Homo sapiens: one gene and its partner. The protein of the gene in region 2 purifies or fractionates together with the protein of the main gene of each other region. This does not show direct contact. Each region holds a gene or a part of one and is shown on either strand. Other genes may lie near its edges. The genes, in order: PPP3CB and TFEB.

What was found.
Region 1: the proteins of TFEB (region 2) and PPP3CB purify together in Homo sapiens (co-immunoprecipitation; one study listed by IntAct). This does not show direct contact.

The regions. Positions count from the first base shown.
Region 1 is NC_000010.11:73,471,798-73,475,611, forward strand, and holds part of PPP3CB (serine/threonine-protein phosphatase 2B catalytic subunit beta isoform), read right to left. Parts: intron 3,234-3,814; coding exon 3,122-3,233; intron 1-3,121. UniProt on the Homo sapiens protein: Calcium-dependent, calmodulin-stimulated protein phosphatase which plays an essential role in the transduction of intracellular Ca(2+)-mediated signals.
Region 2 is NC_000006.12:41,687,077-41,690,890, reverse strand, and holds part of TFEB (transcription factor EB), read left to right. Parts: coding exon 1-228; intron 229-1,079; coding exon 1,080-1,160; intron 1,161-2,862; coding exon 2,863-2,983; intron 2,984-3,081; coding exon 3,082-3,138; intron 3,139-3,721; coding exon 3,722-3,797; intron 3,798-3,814. UniProt on the Homo sapiens protein: Transcription factor that acts as a master regulator of lysosomal biogenesis, autophagy, lysosomal exocytosis, lipid catabolism, energy metabolism and immune response.

The DNA of each region.
Region 1 (3,814 bases), on a different chromosome or scaffold from region 2:
ATGGCAAGAAAATTATAGACAGTAAACAGCAAAGTGGTGGCCAGGGCTTCAGAGTGAGTGAAGGGGTGACTATAAAAAGGTAGCAAGAGAGAACTTATGGCATGATAAAACTTTTCTGTATCATGATAGTGGTAGTGGGCAACTCTATGCAGTGTCAAAAGTCACAGAAGTAAATACCACAGAGAATAAATCTTACTGCACACAATTTTTTTAAGGAAAGCATCTTCCCCTATAAGAATCAACAAAAATATGCAAAGTTATCTGTCTTATGAAGACAAAATATTTGCTCTCTCTAAAATTATTCTCGATGATGTTATGTCTTATGAAGCAAAATATTTGCTCTCTAAAATTATTTTGGATGACAGAAAAGTCATCACGTATTGTTAAAAATAAGTCAGTCAAATCTCTAAAAACAGGCCAGGCACGGTGGCTCACGCCTGTAATCCCAGCACTTTGACAGGCCAAAGCAGGCAGATCGCTTGAGGCCAGGAGTTTGAGACCAGTCTGGCCAACATGGCAGAACACTGTCTCTACTAAAAATACAAAAATTAGCCAGGCATGCTGGTGTGCACCTGTAATCCCAGAGACTCAATGGGTGAGGAACAAGAATCACTTGAACCCAGGAGGTGGAGGCTGCAGTGGGCCGAGATCGTGCCACTTGCACTCCAGCCTGGGCGACAGAGCAAGACTCTGTCTCAAAAAAAAAAAAAAAAGAAAGAAATCTCTTAAAAACAGCTCAACCCTTCACCTTTATCGGCCAAATAAGGCAAAATTAGAACTGTACTTGAGGTTAAAATCATTTTAATACTTGCTTTATTTTATTCTAAGAGTCAATGACTACTTTATTCTTATTACAGGCAAGATGACTACATCATCACAACAAAATTCAAGGTTCATCCATTTTTTCTGAAAAATAAAAGATAATAGCATGCTCATGTCAGAAAAGCTGAGGGGTTCCTCTTGCCTACAATGAATACTTTAAAATGGGCAGTGAAGCAGGAAGCCAATATAGAAACACAAGAAAGACAAAACTCTACCAAATCAAACTATCATTTACTTTTAGAGAGATATCATGCACTTTCATTTGCTCCTTTACAACTTTAAATTCCTATTTTGGTTTTGATGAGATTTTGGTAGGTGGTTTGTTATTTATCTAGGCAAAGAAAAAGAACTTAGTTCCTATTTCCTGTTTTAATACTGTAATATTCAAATATTAAAAAAACTATATATATATCCAGCAACCAGAGATTCTACACTGGCAGTCTGCTAACGACTCTGTTTTCTAGCACTGTGGTTTAATAAAAATTCTAATTTGACTGCTTTTAGGTCAAGCATGCACTTTCCAGGTCTTATCTTACTCATTTAGGTTAACTGCCTGATCCTTGAAGTTATAAGAGTATGCCACTTCTGCCACTACCCATCACTGTATTTTTCTCCTGTTGCTGCAAGTCTCTACTTAGTATGACCTTTATTGGATCATGTTTTGAGTCTCAAAACGTTGAAATTATTTCTGCTTTTAGAATTTAACTCTACTTAATACAGTCATAAATATTAACTTAAAAAGCACAAAGGCAGGCCAGATGCGGTGGTTCACACCTGTAATCCCAGCACTTTGGGAGGACGAGGCAGGTGGATTACTTGAGGTCAGGAGTTAAGAGACCAGCCTGGCCAACATGGTGAAACACCGCCTCTACCAAAAATACAAAAATTAGCAGGACGTGGTGGCGCATGCCTGTAATTTCAGCTACTTGGGAGGCTAAGGCAGGAGAATACTTGAACCCGGGAGGAGGTTGCTGTGAGCCGAGATTGTACCACTGCACTCCAGCCAGGGCGACAGAGCGAGACTGTCTCAAAAAAAAAATAAAAATAACAAAAATAATAAAAAAGCACAAAGGTTTGAGGTGTGAAAAAGGCCTAATCTTGTTCTGTAACATATGGTTACTTACAGGTATTAGATTACCATTGCTATAATAATTTGAGAGAGAAAAGGGATAAACATTGCAGGTTAAGAATTTCACCAACTGTACCTGACTAGTCTTAAAACAATGATATTTAAAAAAACAAAAAAATTTTAAGAAGAATTTCAATCATTAATAGCATGATTGAAATGATCTGCAATGGTAACAGGATAAACAATTTGTTAGGATTCCTCACAGGAATGCCTCAAGATTGAAGGACAAAAATCTCCAATGCAAAATAACATTTTTTTCTTTTGGTTTTTATTTTTTCCTGTTAGAAAAAATATATACATTTTTTTTTCCTGAGACAGAGTTTCGCTCTTGTTGCCCAGGCTGGAGTACAATGGCGCGATCTCGGCTCACTGCAACCTCCGCCTCCCAGGTTCAAGTGATTCTCCTGCCTCAGCCTCCTGAGTACCTGGGATTACAGGCACATGTCACCACGCCTGGCTAATTTTTGTATTTTTAGGAGATGGGGTTTTGCCGTGTTGGCCAGGCTGGTCTTGAACTCCTGACCTCAGGTGATCCACCCGCCTCGGCCTCCCAAAGTGCTGGGATTACAAGCGTGAGCTACCGTGCCTGGCTTAGAAAAATTAATTGTAACATTAAAACTTATATATAAAACTCTAAGTATGTTTGTAAAAGTTAAACATAATAAGAAATTCTGAAATGAAAAAAAATTTTTTTTTTTGAGACAGGGTCTGACTCTATTGCCCAGGCAATTGTCCGTGCAGTGGCATGATCTCAGCTCACTATGACCTCCGATTCCCAGGCTCAAGCGATCCTCCCACCTCAGCCTCCTGAGCAGCTGGGACTACAAGAGTGTGCCGCCACACCCAGCTAATTTTTTTTTTTTGTATTTTTGGTGGAGATGGGGTTTCACCATGTTGGCCAGGCTGGTCTCCAACTCCTGAGCTCAGGCAATCCCCCTGCCTGGGCCTCCCAAAGTGCTGGGATTACAGGCGTGAACCACCATGCCCCACCAAAAACTTCTTAATACCATTAAACACCAGAGAGTGCTCGACAACTTTCCTCAAAGCTTTATGTGTGGACATGAAATCTGTCCTTACATGTTGCACTGTAAAGTCTTCAAAACTCTTACTACCCACTTAAGTCCAAAAGAATACTGAGGAAGTGAAAACATTTCTTCTGGCAGTACTCACATTCCTGCTTAAAGGTAAAATATTCAGTAAGGTGTCTGCATTCATGGTTGCCTCTCAGAAGAAATAATGTGCTTGGGTATAGAATCTTCAGAACCCATAAATATAAGACACACTGCAAAAGAAAATTTTTCTAGTGAATTTATCTTGTACTTTTGTTTAATGAAGCTGCTTGATCTTTGCTCCTTTTCCTCTACTACCCTTACCATCCTCTATTATCTTTCTTTGTCCCTTACTAAAATATAAGCACCACAAAATCACAGATTTTGTCATCTTATTCACTTTTGATTCTCCACTCCCAGAAGAGTACCTAGCAAATAGGAGAAGAGCAATAAATATTTGTTGAATGAATGAGTCAAACAATCTATTTAATTACTTTGGATTTACAGACTGCCCAATATAAAAACAATTAGCACACTGGTCTACAGATGCGTATTAGTAAATAATACTGTCAAAATAACAGCAGCTAACATTTATTAAGTACTTACAATATGTGAAGCACTATATAATTCCCCTAATTTATTCCTCAAACAACACTATGAAGTATGTAATATCATCTTTATTTTACAAATGAGAAACTGAAGCAAAGATCTCAAGTAACTTGTCCAAAACCACAAAACTTCTAAGTGATGGAGATAGGATTCTGATCCTCTGATCTTAAGCATTATGCCATGCTGCCCATGAAGGGAAGGTCCA
Region 2 (3,814 bases):
TCCTACCATCTGCAGCAGTCGCAGCATCAGAAGGTGCGGGAGTACCTGTCCGAGACCTATGGGAACAAGTTTGCTGCCCACATCAGCCCAGCCCAGGGCTCTCCGAAACCCCCACCAGCCGCCTCCCCAGGGGTGCGAGCTGGACACGTGCTGTCCTCCTCCGCTGGCAACAGTGCTCCCAATAGCCCCATGGCCATGCTGCACATTGGCTCCAACCCTGAGAGGGAGGTGAGTGAGGAGCTGGCCAGTGGCCATGCTGCTTGCAGAGCTCGTGCCCACTGCTGTGCTTCTGAGACTCCCAGTCTAATGGCAGAGGCAGGGGTGCCTTCAGGGAGACTCAGTCTGAGGTGGGGACAGAGCCCTTCTCAGGGAGCCCCAATCTCAGGGGGGAAGACACAGCCCTGCCCTCAGGGAGCCTCACAGAGGAAACGCCATCCTTACTTTCAAAAGCTCTGCTAGGAAGTCAGGTGCCGTGGCTCACGCCTGTAATCCCAGCACTTTGGAAGGCTGAGGCAGCCAGATCACTTGAGGTCAGGAGTTTGAGAACAGCCTGGCCAACATAGTGAAACCCTATCTCTACTAAAATACAAAAATTAGCTGGGCGTGGTGGTGCACGCCTGTAATCCCAGCTACTTGGGAGGCTGAGGCAGGAGAATCACTTGAATCGGGAAGGCGGAAGTTGCAGTGAGCTGAGATCGAGCCACTGCACTTCAGCCTGGGCGACAGAGTGAGACTCCTTCTCGAAAAAAAAAAAAGAAAAAAGAAAAAAGAAAGCTCTGCTAGGGAGAAACAGAAGACTTATCCAGGAAAGCCCAGCACACTCCCCAAGCCAGAGACAGAAGTGAGATCAAGGAAGCTCCCTGGGCAGGTAGGCTCCTTGGCAAGAACCGTAGCTTCATGTTGGGCCAGTGGGACCTGGACAGCTCATCTCTTCTCTGGGCCTATTTCCTCTTTCCCCAGATAAGTAGGTTGGGTGAGGTGGGCTCCAAGGTCCCTCCAGGTCAGTGGTTGTCCCAATGCCTCTTTCCCCTGCCCACCTCGTGGTGGGCCCTCCCCAGATGGACTTTTCTCTTTTCCAGTTGGATGATGTCATTGACAACATTATGCGTCTGGACGATGTCCTTGGCTACATCAATCCTGAAATGCAGATGCCCAACACGGTACTCCTGGCTAGGGTGGGGTGGGTGTGCAAGGGTTCTAGGGAGGGGGGCACCCACTGTGGCTCTGAGCCTGGAGAGAGTGGAGACAGGGTTCTCACTGGGCAGAGCTGGCATGTTTCTGTAGAGATGAGTCATTTTCATTAAATAATGTGACAAAGGCCGGGGCCAAGAGGAATTATGAAGCAAGAAGGATGTGCCTCAGCCTCTGTGCACCATGGGGCTTCAGAGGGGAGAAGGGGCTGGGGACACGGAGTGGGCCTGTGGGGGGAGCTTTCCAGGTTGGCGAAGGGGCAGAGGGAGGCAGGGAGAGCACTGCATGGGTGGAGGGGCAGTGTGTCTATGGGAAGGTGTGGAACTAATGAGCTCCTTTGGGGACCTGGGCCTCCCCTCCTTTACCAAACCCAGGGCCCAACAGGCAAAAGCCTGTCTGTGTCTCTTACTCCATGGGGCAAGTGATCTGGGGCTGGCCTTGTCCCCAACCACAGGAACACTCCCTCTGGCAGCTTCCTGCGTCTCCTGGCAGAGGTGGGGTAGCAGGTGGGGAGGTGCTGGGCTTGGAGTCAAGAAGCCTGGCTTCTGGCTTTTGCTGTGACCTTAGGAAATCCCTCAAGCATACTAAACCCCAGTTTTCTCAGCTGCAAAATGGGGGTGATGCTCTCTACCCACAGGATTGTGGGAAGATTAGATGAGGGAAGAAATTGAGGGCAAGCTCTCTACAAAGGTGGCAGGTGTGTACGCTGGGCAGGTGGGATTGCCAGCGCCCCTTCCACCCACTTTTCTTTGGAGCTCCTGAACCTCAGCTACTTACTCCTGCCTTTGGGCATGAGCCTTTCACCCTGATCCTGGCCCCAGCCCATGCCACCAAGGGAAAGTCCCCAGTTCCTGTGGTGGGGAGTCAATCCTCTGTCCCCACTGCCCTGGTGACATCGCTGAGTGGCTTAGTAGGAGCTGGCCGGGACTGGTTGGGTCCAAACCTACAGCTAGCAGGGGCAGCGAGGGCTGAGGAGGGAGGGAGGATGCAAGTGATTGGTCCCTTTAGTAGTTCCTGTGTACACTGTGGGGTGTCTGGGCCTGTGATTTGTTCTGCATGTTTCTGTGGCAGATCTTTCCAGAGCTCAGATCTCTCCCTGTCAGACTCCTGCTTCAACTTCCCTTGGCTGCCCATTCCAAAATTCCAGTATCTTTGCAAGTCAAACACTGTACTGGGGATCCAGATACATCTGCCCTGCCTACAGCACCTCCACCCCCACCACTTCTGCCCTTGAGCTGCTGGAATTGTGCTCTGCCAAGCTGCCCTGTCTGCTTGTGCCCTGGTGGCTGCCCGGAGTGCCTTGCCTCACATCTCTGCTCAAGACTCAGAGTTCCACACCCTCCAGGAAACCGTCCAGAAACTCTAGAATTGATTAGATGACCTGCTCTAGGGCTTCCATAATGCCTGGGGCCTAATCCTATCACATATTATTGGTTGGATCACTCTCTCAGACACTCTAGGCCAGGGGCTCCTTGAGGGCAGGGACTACATCTTATAATAGCTCTGGACTCTGCAGACCTTCAGGTTGAATTGCTGGGTGAAAGGGCCCAAGGTGAATTTTGACACTCCAGGTGTCCCCAGGAAGGACTGCTCCTGGGATGATAGGCCCTAGAGGGGGCTCCCCGTGGAGAGGGGGATACTCATGGGTCTCCCTCACCCCCTACCCCACAGCTACCCCTGTCCAGCAGCCACCTGAATGTGTACAGCAGCGACCCCCAGGTCACAGCCTCCCTGGTGGGCGTCACCAGCAGCTCCTGCCCTGCGGACCTGACCCAGAAGCGAGAGCTCACAGGTACTGCCTCCCTCTACCCCTGTGCCTTTGAATACCCGACTCCTCCCTCCTTTTCTCCCTCCCTCCCAGCTCCTCTCTCCTTCTCTTTTGGCCTCCAGATGCTGAGAGCAGGGCCCTGGCCAAGGAGCGGCAGAAGAAAGACAATCACAACTTAAGTGAGTCCTGCCCCGCCCCTCTCCCTGCCTCCCTCTTCCTTGTTCTCACCTGGGCTGGCTAAAAAGCCACTCCCTGACCTGCACTGGTGGAAGGCTTCCCTGCTCAAGGCCAATTCACTTGCAGATGGCTTAAGCCCTCCCATTGCTGTCGCTCAGTGGTGCCTGGGACTATTAGTGCTGTCTTTCCACTAGGCCTCTTTAGGAGTGGGTAGGAAGGATTCCTGTAAGGGATATTCATGAAACCCCCAGTTTATCAGGTTGTTTTCTGGGTTAAGGCATGGAACCTGGGGCATCAGAGTTCTGTGTAGCAGGGAAGAGTCCTACCCCAGGCAGCTTTGCTGTGCTACGAGCATCACCATGGCTGATTCTACCTTTCAGTGCTCTTAATTGTGTCTGGCCTTTGCCCTGGACCCCCTAATTCCTGTAGAAATCCCAATCTGTTGGTCACCTCTTACTTCCTGGAAGAACTAAATCTAAGCTGCAGGCTGCCCTGAAGCACCCCTCCCTGGGCTGGGTACTTCTCCCCATGGGGTGGGGGGTCCCCATCCCTCTAATTGCTCCTTCTGGAATCTGTTACCTTTAGTTGAAAGGAGACGAAGGTTCAACATCAATGACCGCATCAAGGAGTTGGGAATGCTGATCCCCAAGGCCAATGACCTGTGAGCAGGTTTCTGAG